Linked DNA regions of Homo sapiens: region 1 is linked to region 2. The links come from fine-mapping of genetic effects on gene expression. A gene starts in region 2. The other region holds a variant in brackets. All regions are shown on one strand. Distances are from middle to middle.

What was found. PIP is the estimated chance that this variant, and not a neighbour inherited with it, causes the effect. A credible set is the group of variants that fine-mapping cannot tell apart.
Region 1: its variant is the best candidate, but not a certain one, in a credible set for the expression of FGF14-IT1 in testis (GTEx, PIP 0.72).

What each region holds. Positions count from the first base shown.
Region 1 is chr13:102,291,250-102,295,645 of GRCh38, reverse strand. FGF14-IT1 (FGF14 intronic transcript 1) reads left to right here. Exons shown (of 4, transcript NR_036486.1): 4 at 1,606-3,326. All of the region lies in intron 1 of LOC107984615 (a long non-coding RNA gene), which reads right to left. It also overlaps a transcript of FGF14 not described here. Among named protein-coding and RNA genes, the nearest start is that of FGF14-AS1, 74 kb to the left of the region's middle. The variant A/G (reference allele first, on the strand shown) is at 2,351.
Region 2 is chr13:102,392,612-102,397,007 of GRCh38, reverse strand. It overlaps FGF14-IT1 (FGF14 intronic transcript 1), which reads left to right and starts at 2,489. Exons shown (of 4, transcript NR_036486.1): 1 at 2,489-2,654; 2 at 3,177-3,250. It overlaps FGF14-AS2 (FGF14 antisense RNA 2), which reads right to left and starts at 2,430. Exons shown (of 1, transcript NR_036487.1): 1 at 1,303-2,430. It also overlaps a transcript of FGF14 not described here. RefSeq lists an enhancer at 2,354-2,583.

The sequences.
Region 1 (4,396 bases), 100 kb after region 2:
TGGTACTTCTAATTCTGTAATCTCAGGCAAGATCCTAGCCTTTGATTTTCAGTGCCCTGAGGGAGAATGAGGGAATAATTATGCCTGCTTCGCCGACCTTTAGAAAGTTGGTTTTAGGATCCATTGTGTAATAATTGTGCAAAGGTATCACAAACCACACAGTGCAAAGGTATCACAAACCACACAGTACCGTACAAGTCAAAGGACAAGAAAAAAACTTAAGGCTGCTAAGGGGCAAGGAAAAGTCTAGAGTAACTAGGAATCCTCTTTGCCTACACCACGAACCATTAGATATCACAGTGCATGGTGGAGTGATGATCTTTACTGTTCAGAAGATGTTGATGAGAGGGACAGAGACGAAAGTGAATTTGTAGATACGGTTGAGAACATCTCCATGCCCCGAGCTTAGATAAAAATGCGCTCCAGTGGCACCAGAATCGATAAGAAGTATAACTAACTGAGGAACAAATGCCTGGTGATAATCATAATGATGAAGAACCTCCTGTAGAAGTTGGACAACATGATTTTTATGGTTCTTTCTGGTTTTAAACTCCTATGGGTGGCCAACTTAAAATAATCATACCAACTACTTAAAGTAAAGTAATCCACAAACTGATGGGAGAAAAACAAATCAAAGTAGGTATTTTAAAATATTTTGAATAATAGCATTCACAATGAAATCACTTCAATTTTCAAGTTGAGAACATTAACACAGAGCTTACTCTGTGCCAGACATTGTTCTAAGTGCTATTGTAACTCATTTAGTCCTCACGGTAACCTCAGGAGGTAGATCAGGAAACTGAGGCACTGAGAGAGCCGTCTTTTGATAGAGGTCACACAGATGGTTCTGAGGGAGCCAGAACTTGGACAATGGCAGTCTAACTATATAGACTAGGGAAAAGTGAAACTAGAAAAATTTCACTAATATTATCAGAAGGAAACAGCTATTTTGACCACTGGAGAAATAGTGGAAATAAGAAAGGAGGGGAGGGCAAACAGAAATTGACAATCTAGTTCCCAGCAACCACTCAAATATTCAAACACAAGTGACAGAGTTCAAGCCAAGTGGATGCCACGGGGTTAAAAGAATGCCCCTGGAGTTAATATTTAGAATGTGTTTATTTTTAGAGATAACATGAAATAAATTCCCTGCTGATATTAAATAAATTTTTAAATAAAGCAGTCCTAGTAGTTTTCCTAATCATTCAGGATGTGTTTGTTTTTTTTTTTTGGACCAAACAGTCTTCTAGAAAAAAGCAGTGGAAGATGAAGATTAAGCAATGGAGAAAAGGCCTGTTATTTTAAGAAAATTAGTTGTTAAAAAGTCAGTGGAAGATGAAGATTAAGCAATGGAGAAAAGGCCTGTTATTTTAAGAAAATTAGTTGTTAAAAAGTCATAGAAAAGACATTTTATTTGAATAAATATGTTTTCCCATTGACTTGAGTACTTTAGTTGTAGCAGATCATTCATAGATTTATGCCATAAGATTTTGACTAGAGAAGCCTCTTGTATTATGATTGCATAACAACTGCTATGTTTCATTTGTTAATTTTTGCTTGGTATTTGTGGATGTTAAGTGTTTGTTCATTTTTTTCATATTTCAGATTTCAGGTTTCTACTTCTACATCTCCAGCCCTGAATACTCATGGAATATCGCTGTACCTATGACAGGTTGCATGATTTTTCCCCCTCTGTGCACTCAATTTGTGTATTATTGTATCATATGACATTCTGAATCAAGTGCTGCTAGTACCAAGCTGCTATCATCAGCTGATGCCAAAAATATTCGTTATAACACTTCTCAGCATGCAAGTGAGAGCACTTCAAATCACACAGACAGAATTTCCAGCCATTGTTCTTTTCTTCTTTGCTTATTATACAGCAACAAGAATCAAAACAAAAGGGGATTTATTAGAAAATAATGCTTCAGTAAAATGTTATAAAACATGAGGTTTATTGTTTGTGAAGATAGAGTGAAATTCAGTACCACATTATAGATACCACCTCAGAGGCCTATTTTCCCCTTCTTTTCTCTTTTCTCAAATGTTTTTCAAGTGGCATCTTTTTTTCAGTCTTTGATTACATTAAGGTGCAAACTATTTATCCATCTGGAAATAAGCAATACTGTCAACAGAGAACCAGGAAATGAAAAGTGCAGCCGGCCATATGCCTTCTCTACGGCCTCTTTATGTTACTGTGCTGATCAGGACAAATGCAGTACCTATGGTAGCAATAGGGAGAGTGAAAATATGTATTCTCCAAGGGAAGACAATTAAAAGACAAATTCCATCAGGAAGATTTGTCATTTTTTGAGAGTGCTGATCCTGCATCTATCAGCAAATTTCACAT[A/G]AATTAATTCATTTTACAGAGTGAATGCTGAAACTTGGAAGCCAACTGACAAGATGCCAGGGATGGCATGGCAAGGAAGAGAGAGCCTTCATGGCAATTTTGAATACCTGATCTCTTGCTTTCATCATCTTGTCTAGGGGAAGAAACACGGAGCCTGGTAGTTGGGAGGTGAGAGGCAGGAATGGATACCAGAGATGGACAGACAGTGGGGTGGTGAGAAGGGAGCTGCAATTTGCTAATCCTTGTAGTACTACCTGTCAATCATCTTGCTTTCCTTAATCATCGATCCTGGAGAGACTTTGAGGAAAGGGCTGGTGGAGTTGCGCAGATGTGATCTTCATTTCAGCCTTATGAATACATACCAAGGTCTCTTTAAATCTGTGGTTCCTGCACAAAGTGCTGTGACTTCAGGCTAATAGAGAGGTCCAGATGTCACATGTGCCAATTAGAAAGAAATGAGGACCATGGCTATGGCCCACTGTGTTCAGAAGACACGCCCAAGCCACCCATTGTCATTCATTGTGTCTAATACTTGACCTGTCCTGCTGTTTATTATGTGGGGTGGCTCCATATTTTAAAAACTGTATTCATAAAAAGATATTTCTCATCCTGCTGAGTCTCAGGCCCATTGTTGTAGGTGAGGTGGTTTCTTTTGTTTGATATATAACGTTTTGCTGACTTTCGACTTGGGAATTGCAAAGGCTTACCCAAAACCCTGAAGGAAAAGCTAAGAATTCATACTTATTAAGCACTTGGTAGGTGTCTGACACTGTAGTAGATATATGCGAGAGCCCAGAACAAGCTGATGTCCATGTACATATCTTTAAAAAATATAATGATCTAGTCTTATCTGTGGAAACTGCTTCAGATACTGATCTTACTCTTTCCTGTTACATCAGAAATTCTGGAAGGTAATATCCTGAAAGATTTATCCTCAAGAATAACAATACATTAAAATCTTCTGCTTTGAAAATGCTTTGAAATTGTCAGTTTTTTTTTTTTTTTTTTTTTTTTTTTGCTATAGAGTATAAGGTAGGAAATATTTGGCAGGTAAAATGAGACATCCTCTCAACTCTGTCAGTTTTTGTCAATTTCTGGGATGATGAAAGATATGAGAACTAGAAGGCTGGTTTAGTACTGACTCCTGGTTTATGTTAAATAATGAAATGCAAGCCAGAAAAACAAATTGGCGGGGGCTCCGGCCAGCCAGCCATTCTGCAAGCGCTTGGGATTGGGCAAAGTGAGAGTCCAGGTCACAGACAAGGCCGGCTCTAATCCAGATAACTGTGGAGTCAGCATTAATGTGCTGACTCACTGCAGCGACTCTCAAGCATTTCTCTTACCCTTTAAATGCTTCCAAGTTTTATACTTTAAGTCCAAGTAGGCACCACAGGCACCATGTGGACAAGCAGGAGGGTCGGCCTGGGGTCCTACAATAAGTGATACCACCTCCCTTTTGAGGTGGTAAAAACCAGAGCATTGGAGGAGTCAGGGCAGAGGTGCAGACACCTTCCTGGGACCTGTTGAATCCTTTCAGGTGTACGTAGCTGCTGGGCTCTGAGCTCTGTATTTTTTTCCCAGCCTTATTCTTAGGGTCTGATTTTATTCCAATCAAGTCTTTAACATTCTTTCCTTGGTTTCTTCAGTATAGCACACCCCACAGTATGGTATTGTGTGGGGACTCTCAGCTTGATGGATGCTGATTTTTCTGGTTCTAAAAAATGTTATTTATTGATCTATCTATTTTAATTTACACCTATGCAGTTATTTATTTACTCTGGTGAATAGAGAACACATTCTTGACACGGGGAAGGAATACACTCCTTTAAGCTTCTCCTAGCACCACTGTGAAAACTTCTAGACTTTTTTTCCTCCCAAATCCTATGAACATGTTAGCGAGTTCCTCTCTGCCTTCTACTCAGAACTCAAAATACAGTTTCTCTAATCTGAAGGTAGGACCAAACCCCATATATAAAATTACCAGAGTAATATTTGTAAAGACAGTTTCAAAAGAAGAAAAGGCTTAATTGTAACTTGTAAATGATG
Region 2 (4,396 bases):
GGAACAGCAAACAGATGTAAGCTGCTTCTTCTAACATGCTTGGCTGTAGAGTGGGATTCAATGTAGTATTAGTTGGCCTTAGACTCCATCCAGGAAGCTTATTTACTGAGGTAACAAAATGGGTTTTGTAGAGCAGTGCCACTCCATGAACCAAAGGATGGCATTTTAGGTAGGCTTCGGAGTACTGCCTTGTTGGGAGAGTAGATTTTTCTTTTTTGAAATGTATATCCCAGTTAATAAGTGTAAAATTCAATGCATGATAATCTAAACTTAGTTTTAACAATGAAGATGACTTTGGCTGTACAACTTGTTCTCATCTTAGACAGCATCCATAACTGAGAAAATTTGTTCAAATGATGCAGTACTTTCTGAAAGTGCTAAAGCTAATTCTATACTATACTTCACGTTTCCTACAATGAACCATTCCTTTAAAATGTTCGAACCCAGTCTTCCATGTTTTAGCAACACAAACATTGGAGACTTTTGTGAAGTGTTTTTATACATATGGTAACAAGGACAACAACCAATGTTTTCACTCCTTTGCACATTTTGGCATCATACCTCACTCAAATTGACTCATACGCCTTCTATAAATACCACGTAGATGTCTCAAAATGGAAGCATTTATTCAAAATAGTGTCTTTTGCCTTAAGGGGAAACAGTTGGGCTGTTTGAACAGTCTAACAGGAGCTCTTCTCTTCAGTGTTAAACAAGTCATTGCACTGTGCCTATTTTTAATAAAACCTTTGAGCCCAACTCAGTATTACCTCCAGGAGGGACTGTGGAGGTAATACTATTTACCTCCTGTAAATAGGGACAGGGAAACACCTATTTACACATCTGCCTGCTCACTGCCATAGTCTGTGTGGTGTTCCTTAGGACTTGTGTACCAGGTACAAGGTTTAGTTATGTGTTGAACCCGGGTACTGAAGGGCATGGAGTTTTCTGAGGGAGACTTCTCAGCTCCCCGTATACCTCTAGAGATGCAATAGCTCTTTTGTATCAAGACCAACTATGTCCTGATGTTTTCCCTGTGTAGTTCTCTAGCTGCCACTATTTTTTTTACTTTGGTCAGAATGTAAAAGGTAGGATGATGAAGAGAAGGGAACAAAAGGAGGGATTCTTAGGGACTTCCTAAACTTGAAGGCAAAAAGGATGAATGTCGCAGACATGTTTTATAGGGAACAGTGAAGTTCTTGTTTGATTAGTCTGGTAACATCATGTAAGAAAGTCACCCAACAACTGCTGGGCACCACTGCCTTTGTCACTGTCTCTTGACAAAAACTCTGTTCACGACACATGGTAGGTTTTCAATACACTTTAATAAAATAGTGAAAAATAGGTATCTCTAGGATAGTGAACTATGGGACTACAAAGGGCAGGACGATACATTTTACTTGGTTAAATTCGCTTAATGCTTACTCCTTTCTCAAAGCGCCAACCAAGAATTTGGCTACTAAATAAAGAAAAAAGCTGTTAGTGGCTCTTTATCCGCCACGATAGGGTGCTCTGAAACCCGGTCCTGCAGACATTCCCTTGGCCCACATTTTATAGCTTCCTTCTCAGTCTCAAGGCCTGTAGTCTACTGTTCACACTCGAGCCTCTCGCAAAATACACAAGCTCAAAAGCTCATGGCGTTCTCCCCATCTGGCATTCTCGGCCTTAGAATAGCAAACGTTAGGGCACCATTAGGTTCATAGTTGCCAGACCCTTCATTTTCTTTTTTAATCTTTAATTTTCTTCTTAACAAGGAAGACATTCCGCAAAAAATAAACTCCCTCTTTTGAGCTCCTTTCTCTGAAGATGGTAACTGGAACTCTCATTAGTAAAGAACCTCGAGTTCCAGTTGCTTTGGACGGAGTTTCTCGCTTAGTATTTTGCTCTTTGGCAGTTTGAAAAGCAGTAATCTTCCAACTTCGCAGCTCCCTGCACTCGCGCCTACCACCCTGATCTATTTGGCTTTCTCCTTTTTGGAGCCACTTTAAAAGGTGCAGGGTGCTGGGCCGCTGTGGCCTCGGGCTGAGAGGCGGGGAGTTGGTGTCCGGGACCAGAAAGTTTGGCAGAAGCCACGGCTCTGGGCCCAGGCCCCGGGCTTCCAGAGAAGTGTGTCATTATTTGTTTTCTGCAAAGCCGCGAGCGGGCCCACGCTGCAGCTCTGCCTCCAGGCGTGGAACCCCTCGGTAATCCGGGTGAAGCTGGGTTCCGAGTGTGGACTGCTTCGGCTCTGAGGAGGAGGGAGCCCAACGGGCCAGGCACGGGCTTCCTCCTGGCTTTACCCATTGGCCCAGAGTCCCCGGTCCCGCCGCCGCTGCCCTCTGCTCACGGGGACCGGCCATCACCGCGCTCCCAGCCTCGGCTCGCCGGGGGCTTCGCTACGCAATGCGGCGGAAGCGGCCCGTTGGAGCCGCCGTAGCGCGGGAAGTTTCCGTTGCCACGGAGATGACCTCTGACCCTAGGGCGTCTCTGGGACCCGGCAGCTTGTGCTGTTGTTGCTATGGAAACCATGGCGGCCGGAAGCCGCCGCGCGGGAGAGACTTGGGGCGCGGGTCGGGGCTAGGGCTCCTGCCCTGGCAGAGATCTTCGCTCTTCCGTGGTGGCCGGGGACCGGGCAGTGAGCGGCCGGCTCTGCCGCCCGCGGGGCGCGGGTTTGCAAGGTCACTCCTCCGGCGTTGACGCGGGGGCACCCCATGTGCACTGCTGGACCTGAGGGATGGGAAAGCCACAGGTGGCTGCCTTGGCCCTCCCGGTCTGGCCTCCCGCTAGCGGGCGCCAGCTCTGGACCCGAGACCCATCTGAAGGAAAGGGAAGGGAGCTGGCGTTGCTGGTGATTCTGCCCAAGCTCAGGACTGGGAGAGAACGAGCCAAGTTCTGGTCTCAGCTTACACACTAGCTACTGGGAGACCCTGGGCGGGTCCTGAAGTTTTCTGGGCTTCAGTCCCCTCGGCTACTACAAGAAGGATATTGATTAGAGTAATCCCAGATCAGCCCCAGCTCTAATATTCTAGGTTCCCATAACGTTCACACCCAGTCCTGATTGTAAGTAAACTTCCCTCACCCCTTCCCTGTATCTCTCCCGGACTATGTTAACTATATATTTAAATTGTACTCTAAATTCAGAGACCATCAGAGATAAGAGGTTGACCTTAGCGATCACAAACAACCTGTTCCTTTTACAGGTGTGGCAACTCCTTCCCAGTGGAGGAAGCGACTGTTCCAAGAGCCAGTTTTGGAATTGTAGGCACAAACACAGGTAGAAGCTTTGAGCCTTGGGTGAAGAAACGCGTATTTTACTGGTGACACTAGGAAGAGCTCCTCATGCGCTTCATAGAATTGTGTGGTTGGTGCTGAAATAGATGGCATTCCATTTATCCATTATATTCCCCAGATACCTTTTCCTTAGACAGTTTTAAGATTTTCGGGGTAGGGGAGGGTATCTTCACTAGTTTATTTTTCCTTCTCTCATATCCATGCTATTGGGAAAAATCTTTCTTAAATCTTTTTTATAAACCTCATTTGTAAATTAAGAAGTTGAAAAAGATTATTTTCAGAGTTTATTACAACTCTGAAATTTATGAATTATTTCTTTTAGGTCCACGTGCTTTTTATCACTTTTTCAGTAACTACAATCTCAAAAAAACAAAAAACAAAACTTAGTAAACACTTAAAAAGTGCTGCTGTGTTTGAACTGTTGATGCTGGAGATACAGGGGTGAAGAAGAGTTCTTCCTTCAAGGAATTAGCAGGAAAGACAAAAGACAGGATCAATTATGATGTGGTGAACAATTCTGTGTAGGTGGACCAAGGTGCTATAGGGCCAAGGAAGAGGGGCATGGAAAGGTTTCTGGAGGGAATAAAACTCAGACTGAGTCATGAAGAATGACTAAGAGTTAGCCACGTGGTAAAGGCACTGGTTAGGCTGTCAAGGAAGAGAAAGAAGCATACTTTAAGCTTTGGGGGCGTCAAAGATTGTGGTGCAGACCGAGAATATCAAGTACAACTGAGAAATAGAGGGTGTTTCTAGGGAGTGGCAGGTAGTGAGTGGGGTTGCAAGGTAGTGAGGCACAGATCGTGAGCTCTCTTCTGTGTCATGATCATATCTACCCTTTAGACAACCATTATGACTACAGCGTGGAAAACAGCTCTGGGTTGGGCAAGGTTGAAGGTGGAAAGACCAGGGAGGAAGAGCAGTGAGCAGTGGTGAGCGGTCCAGAATAAGGCAGTGACAGGCACTAGAGAGGAAGTGAAGTCCATCCATCTTAGTGGCCAGTTTGAATTTGGGAAGGAAGTTGAAGGAGGAGTCTGGAATTTTCTGATTACAGGTTTTTGATTTGGACAGTTCTGGTGAGCTAGTCTTCTGGCCATTTGCCAACAGAACACTTCCATCTTCTTGAGACATG